Linked DNA regions of Homo sapiens. The protein of the gene in region 1 purifies or fractionates together with the protein of each later gene. This does not show direct contact. Each region holds a gene or a part of one and is shown on either strand. Other genes may lie near its edges.

What was found.
Region 2: the proteins of NAT2 (region 1) and STARD7 purify together in Homo sapiens (affinity purification with mass spectrometry; 3 studies listed by BioGRID and IntAct, with this or other methods). This does not show direct contact.

Annotation. Positions count from the first base shown.
Region 1 is NC_000008.11:18,394,168-18,397,995, forward strand, and holds part of NAT2 (arylamine N-acetyltransferase 2), read left to right. Parts: intron 1-3,828. UniProt on the Homo sapiens protein: Catalyzes the N- or O-acetylation of various arylamine and heterocyclic amine substrates. Participates in the detoxification of a plethora of hydrazine and arylamine drugs, and is able to bioactivate several known carcinogens.
Region 2 is NC_000002.12:96,195,176-96,199,003, reverse strand, and holds part of STARD7 (stAR-related lipid transfer protein 7, mitochondrial isoform 1 precursor), read left to right. Parts: intron 1-3,454; coding exon 3,455-3,663; intron 3,664-3,828. UniProt on the Homo sapiens protein: May play a protective role in mucosal tissues by preventing exaggerated allergic responses.

The DNA.
Region 1 (3,828 bases):
CTATTGAGCCAGGATGAGCCAGGAGAAGGAATTTCACAAGACAGTGTCATCAGTTAAGGCAGGAACAGGCCATTTTCCCATCTTTTGTGGTGGAATGTCATCAGTAAGGCAGGAACCGGCCATCTGGATGTGTACATGCAGGTCACGGGATATGATGGCTTAGCTTAGGCTCAGAGGCCTGACACACAGTAGAACTGATTTATTTGCAAAATAAGTTTTGTTACTATACTTGGTCTGATTTTTTGCATAAAGGGCAGCAAGAATAATTATTTACTATATAGGCTCCTTTTTAAAAAATGGCTTTGCTGGAACATTCTTTTTTGTAAAGAATCTCATATTAGACCTCTTAAAAGCATCCTGAGCCCAACCAAGGATTTATCTGTTTCTACGAGATACCTGTATGAATTAAGTGAATTCTCTCTCAAGGTCCCAAAATAAGTTGGGGTTCCTGGGCCTGTCAGAATGTGACCTTCTTTTACCCATTACAGGCCAGAAACCTGTAAAGGAACCTGTAAAGGAACTGCATAGACAAGCTGTGAGGCCAGTTTTATCCACAGGGCTATTATCAGCTTTATAAAGTCCCAATATCAATTTCTTAAAAATAGGGCATTCCAGTCAAATCCTTGATTTTTGTCTCCACTTGTGGCCTGTTACAAAACAAAACAGATTCTAACTGAATTTATGCAAATAATTATATTCCCATAAATTAGCAATAATCACTAAGAGTTTCCAAATTTCAGAGAAATCAGGCAGATAGAGGGAAATATGCTTCAAATTTTGCTCACAAGAGTATACTTTACACAAATATTAAAAGCTGTAAATGTCTAAAAAGAAAAAAATTTTGACTCTGAAAAACAAAAGTGGCAATGTTTCAACAAAACCCATAAAAAGATTATTTCAGTCTTCTATTATTTCAGTCCATGCAATTAACTCCTATTCTGTTAGATATTGGGTGAGCAATCTTCATGAACATATTAGTTCTCCATGAGAGTCCTGGGAGTTTTTTTTCTCTATACCAGTGGCACAATCTCCAAAGTTATCATAAAGCTTCATTCAAAAGCACCCCTTAGAGTCCTATAGCTAATTGCAAACCACCTTTTTAAAAGCACCAAAGTAGAACAACTGTCAATGACAGAAGTCTTAGGACAGCCATGGTCAAGGACACACTTAACAAGGAAATTTGGTTATTTCTGTGGCATATAACAATTTAACATAATAATTATAAATACTAATAACATATATAAAGACATCAGAATGATAGGAATATCACGCAATGTTGAAAAACATACTAGTAACAGGTTTAATATAAATGTAGAACAAATAAAGTTGAACACCATTTCATATTTGACAATGTTTCCTATATGATTTTAACATGCCAAATACACCGAATATGTCTGTTTTTGGCTTCAGGGGACTTAATATCAAAAAAGATAATGAGGTCAACAAGACTGAATTTAGAATTTGATTTTGGAAAGTTTGATTTTCTTCAGTCCCCACTTTGAAACTTAAAACAAGTTTCATATATTAAAAGCCAAGGTAATAGCTTTGGAGAGATTTGGGTTACGGGTATTTAGATAGAGACAGATATTGTGGTGGAAAAACAAATTACAATCACCAAACAGGTCATTGTAAATAAGTCATTCATTTAGGCAAAGTGATAACTCAAAGATTTCAAAAAGTAAAAACCTTCACTCTTTGAGAGAGAGGACTCACTTTCACAAACAATAAGACCTAATAAAGACAGCATGAGGCCAACTAAATTTGTCTCTCTTCCCCAACCCATCTTTTTTTTTTTTTTTTTGCAGTTTTCTCAAAAGGTAAGCAAAAATCTTTCACTATCTCTTAATATTAAAAGAAAATCTTATTCAAAGGAAATCTAAATTTTACCATTGCATAGCTTATTATTAATGCTAAAGTTAGCATTAATAAAATCTTACAAACAAATCTATTTAATTAGTTGTAACACAAGGTAGAGATTTTTATAAATCTTTTACAACATTTTATAATTTTCCATAAAAGAGCAGATTAGTATTCTAATAAAACCCTGATATTTTGACATAAGGGCCTAGATTCTGGCCCTGAATTAGTATGCTTTTTATTTTAAGGTTTAATTTATGCAAAAACTAAATAATCCCTTTCAAATTTTAGCCAGCTGGCTTATATATAGAATTCCTTTTACAAGATCAATGATCAATCTTTCATAAACCTTTAGTTTTGTCCACATTTTTAACTTAAAACAATCTTTAAAATCTAAAAAATTTTTTTTTGTTCTTTTGAGACCGAATCTCACTCTGTCAGCCAGGCTGGAGTGCCTGCCTCCAGGGTTCAAGTGATTCTCCTGCCTCAGCCTCCTGAGTAGCTGGGATTACAGCTGTGCATGACCACACCCGCCTAATTTTTGTATTTTTAGTAGAGACGGGGTTTCACCACGTTGGTCAGGATGGTCTCGAACCCCTGACCTCGTGATCTGCCCACCTTGGCTTCCCAAAGTGCTGGGATGACAGGCATGAACCAATGCACCCAGCCTGTAATTTTTTAAATAAATAAGACTAGCTTAATATTCGTTTCATAAAAACAGCTAAATCCTGAGCTATCTGTAAAAAAATACGTTTAACATTAAGGTTTATACTTGGGTGAACACCTGATATTCACAGGCTATAAAATAGTTAGCAAGGAAATAACTTTAAATGTGACTAGTTTTGTCTAATGTCTCAGTTCTCAAAGCAATCTAGGTAAACTGCTAACAATGAATAAATTGAACAAATATAAGTGGGATGGATAAATGCTTGTTGGTTAACTTTTATGTAATTTAAAATCTTAAACTTATTTTGGATTAAAGAACAGCTACTCATTAATAGTTTGGCTCATTTCCAATTAAGTAGAGATATGGAGAAACATGCCTAAAAATTATAGAGTGATTTCATCTATAAAGTACTGATACCTGATATGCAGTTTAGGATTTCATGTTTCCTAGGTTTAAGGTCACTAAAAATAAAAATTCCACTTAATATATAATTCTGTTTATAAAGTCTGTCAAAGACATGTTTTTGATGAAAAAAGAAAATAATATAAGACAAATAGAAAAATGTATTCTCATTAAAAAGAAAATCACTTTTGTCTAATTCAAAGGTTATTTATGAAACAAAGTAAAAAGGAACCAGTAAATAGGGGAAAGAGATGTAAAGAAAGTTATAGATATAAAGATGTATTTGTGATAAGAGAGATTAAAAAGAAAAGAGAATTATTTTGTATGATAAATAATTTTATATTTTTTTCTGAAGTAAGATGACTGGTAATCTAAGAAAGAGGGAAATTTAGGATACAATGGAAAGTCCAATCATGTTGGAAGTGGCATGTGTATAATCAAATTCATAAAAGAAATTTTGTTTGTGGTTATGTTGGCTTTAATTAAAATTGAATTATTTATAGTCGTCTTTCTGGAAACTGAGCTTTGACCAAAAAAACCACAATACAAAACCAAAACATTGGTTAGAGCAATAAGGGTTTCTTAAAGTATTGATTTGCTCTTCATTAAATTCCAAGAAGTTTTAATGTTTAATGCTATTTTTTTCTTTTTGAAACTTCTCAGATATCTCAGAAGTTCAACTTCTGGTGTATCCTGCTGCTTTTAGCCTTTTCTTCATTTGAGAATAGCTGAGATCTTAACTCTCTCTTTCAACTTTTTGTTGGCTCTGGCAAATTTTTTTTTTCTTCAGGTCTAAATCTGTTGCTATAGCCTGATGCTGAAGTGTTTCGTCTTAAAGCTTCAAAAAAAGCAATGTTTTCTTCCATTATCACTTAATTCTGTGCTGTTGGCTTTTCCTCCTA
Region 2 (3,828 bases), on another chromosome or scaffold:
ATAAACCTTTACATTTTTGGTCAGTTTTCAACAAGGATGCCAGGATAGTTCACTGGGGAAGGAATAGGCTTTTCGACAAATGACACTGGGTCACCTGGAGAAGCAGATGCAAAAGAATGAGTTTAGACTCCTACCTCATTATCATACACAAACATTAACTTGAAATGGGGTAAAGACCTAATGTAAGCTAAAATTCTAAAACTCTTAGAAGAAAATATAGGCATAAGTTCTTATGACCTTGGATTAGGCAGTGGTTTCTTGGCTATAACACCAAAAACAAGCAATCAAAGAAAAAATAAACATCAAAATTAAAAACTTTTATGCATGAAAGGATACTATCAAGACTAGTATAAGCACATGAAAAGGTTAGGGAAATACCAGTCAAGACGCAATGAGATACCATTTCACACCCACTAAGTTGGCTGGAATAACAAAGATGGACAATAACAAGTGGGGCAATTGGAACCAAGGATGTGGAGCAGTTAGAATCCTCAAACATTGCTGATGTGAATATAAAATAGTGTAATTGTTTGGAAAACATTTTGGCAGTTGCTTAAAAAGTTAAGCATAGTTACCATGATCCATCAAATCTGCTCCTAGGAATCTACCCAAGAGAATTGAAAACATGTCTATATGAAGATTTGTACACAAATGTCCATAGCAGTATTCTTTTTTTTTTTTTTGAGACAGTTTTGTCTTTTCGCCCAGGCTGGAGTGAAGTGGTGCAATCTTGGCTCACTGCAACCTCCACCTCCTGGGTTCAAGCAATTCTCCTGTCTCAGCCTCCCAAGTAGTTGGGATTCCAGGCTCCTGCCATCACACCTGGCTAATTTTTGTATTTTTAGTAGAAATGGGGTTTTGCCATGTTGGCCAGGCTGGGTCTCGAACTCAACCTCAGAGTGATCCACCCACCTTGGCCTCCCGAAGTGCTAGGATTATAGGCATGAGTCACTACGTCCGGCCAGCAGTATTATAATAGCAGTAATATAATATAGTGCTATTATAATAGCACTATAATAAAATAGTGGAAACAAATTTTATTTGATGAATGGATAAACAAAATGCGATCTATCCATACAATGGAATATTATTCAGCTATAAAAAGGAATAAAGTACAGCATGGTTGAACTTGAAAGTATGCTAAGTGAAAGAAGCTCAACACAAAAGCTACATATCATATGATTCCATTTACTTGAAATGTCCAGAATTGGCAACTCCATAGAGACAGAAAGTAGATTAGTGGCTGCCTAGGACTGGGAGGAGGCAGGAATGGGAAGTGACTAATGATAGATAGAGGTTTCTTTTGGGGGTGATAAAAATGTTCTGGAATTAGGGGTGATGGTTGCACAACCTTGTGAATATACTAACAAGTACAGAATTGTACACTGTAAAAGAATGAATCTTATGGTATGTGAATTTATCAATTTAAAAACAAAGGGGAAAAATACATACATACTTATAATAAGACAACCCAATAAAAAACGGACAAAAGATATCAATTGACATTTTAAAACCATAAACCTTCATAGTTAACATTTGAGGGCTACTTACGTGCCAGATAACAAACACTTTATTTTATTTTATTTTTTATTTATTTTAGAGATGGAGTCTCACTCTGTTGCCCAGGCTGGAGTGCAATGGTGCGATCTTGGCTCACTGCACCCTCAGCCTCCTGGGTTCAAGTGATTCTTCTGCCTCAGCCTCCCGAGTAGCTGGGATTACAGGCGTCCACCACCATGCCCAGCTAATTTTTGTATTTTTAGTAGAGATGGAGTTTCACCATGTTTCCCAGGCCGGTCTCGAACTCCTGACCTCAGGTGATCCGCCCACCTCGGCCTCCCAAAGTCTGGGATTACAGGCGTGAGCCGTTGTGCTTGGCTTTATTTTATTTTATTTTATTTTATTTTATTTTATTTTATTTTATTTTATTTTATTTTGAGACGGAGTTTCGCTCTTGTTGCCCAGGCTAGAGTGCAATGGCACGATCTTGGCTCCCTGCAACCTCCGCCTCCCGTGTTCAAGCGATTCTCTTGCCTCAGTCTCCCGAGTAGCTGGGATTACAGGTATGTGCCACCGTGCCCAGCTAATTTTGTATTTTTAGTAGAGACAGGGTTTCTCCACGTTGGTTAGGCTGGTCTCAAACTCCTGACCTCAGGTGATCGCCTGCCTCAGCCTCCCAAAGTATTGGGATTACAGGCGTGAGCCACTGCGCCTAGCCTATTTTATTTTTTAAGAGACAGTGTAGCTGGGCACGGTGGTTTACGCCTGTAATCCCAGAACTTTGGGAGGCCGAGGCGGGCAGATCATGAGGTCAGGAGATTGAGACCGTCCTGGGTAACACGGTGAAACCCTGTCTCTGCTAAAAATACAAAAAATCAGCCGGGCATGATAGCGCGTGCCTGTAGTCCCAGCTACTGGGGAGGCTGAGGCAGGAGAAATACTTGAACCCAGGAGGCGGAAGTTGCAGTGAGCCCAGATCATGGCACTCTATTCTAGCCTGGGTGACAGAGTGAGACTCTGTTTCAAAAAAACAAACAAAAAAAAGAGACAGAGTCTTACTGTATTGCCCAGACTGGAGTACAGTGGCAGAATTGTAGCTCACTACAGCCTCCAACTCCTGGGCTCAAGTGATGTTCCCATCTCAGCCTATAGCTTGGAGTACAGGCATGTGCCACTATGCCTGGCTAATTTTTTAAATTTTTTCTTAGAGGTAGGGTCTCACTGTGTTTCCCAGGTTAGTCTTGAACCTGGCCTCAAGGAGTCCTCCTGCCTTGGCCTCCCAAAGTGCTGGGACTACAGGAGTGAGCCTCTGTGCCTGGCCATAGATATTAAGCACTTGACACTTACTTTTTTTTCGTTGTTTTTTGTTTTTTGTTTTTTTTTTTTTTTTGAGACAAGAGTCTCACTCTGTCGCCCAGGCTAGAGTGCAGTGGCGTGATCTCGGCTTACTGCAACCTCTGCCTCCCAGGTTCAAGTCATTCTCCTGCCTCAGCCTCCTGAGTAGCTGGGATTACAGTTGCGCGCCACCATGCCCGGTTAATTTTTGTGTTTGTAGTAGAGACAGGGTTTCACCATGTTGATCAGGCTGGTTTTGAGCTCCTGACCTCGTGATCCACCCTCTTCTGCCTCCCAGTGTTGAGATTACAGTCGTGAGCCACCACGCCCTGCAGCACTTGACACTTTGTAATCTTTATAGCCAACCTCGAGATAGGTACTATTATTATTTCCATTTTATAGATTTAGAAATAGGAACTGGTTAAATAATAATCTAGTTAGTGAGTGTTGGACTAAGATTCAAACTCAGGAACTCAGTTTTTATTGACTATACTGTGTCCTGTTTATATACTACATACTGTGGTTTACTGTATAACCTTCTTGCACAGACCTTTGTGTGGACACTTCATTTCACAGGGCTGACTAACCACCTCACCATGGCTCTTTTTCCCCTTTACAGATCTATTAATGAGATGAAGCGGTTGGAAGAAATGTCAAATATGTTTCAGAGCTCTGGAGTCCAGCACCACCCTCCAGAACCAAAAGCCCAAACAGAAGGGAATGAAGATTCAGAGGGCAAAGAGCAACGTTGGGAAATGGTGATGGATAAGAAACACTTTAAGCTGTGGCGGCGCCCAATTACAGGCACCCACCTTTACCAGTACCGAGGTGAGCCCAGTGTGGCTATCTTTTGGGTTCCATAGTTGCACAGGTGCATGGGATTTCTGTTCTTCATACTTCTCTAAACTGTTCTGGTTGTTTCTCAGAAAATTTGCCGTAGTTTTTTGTTTATTGTTTTTCTTCTCCCAGATGACAAATGTCTCAGTGTTGTCT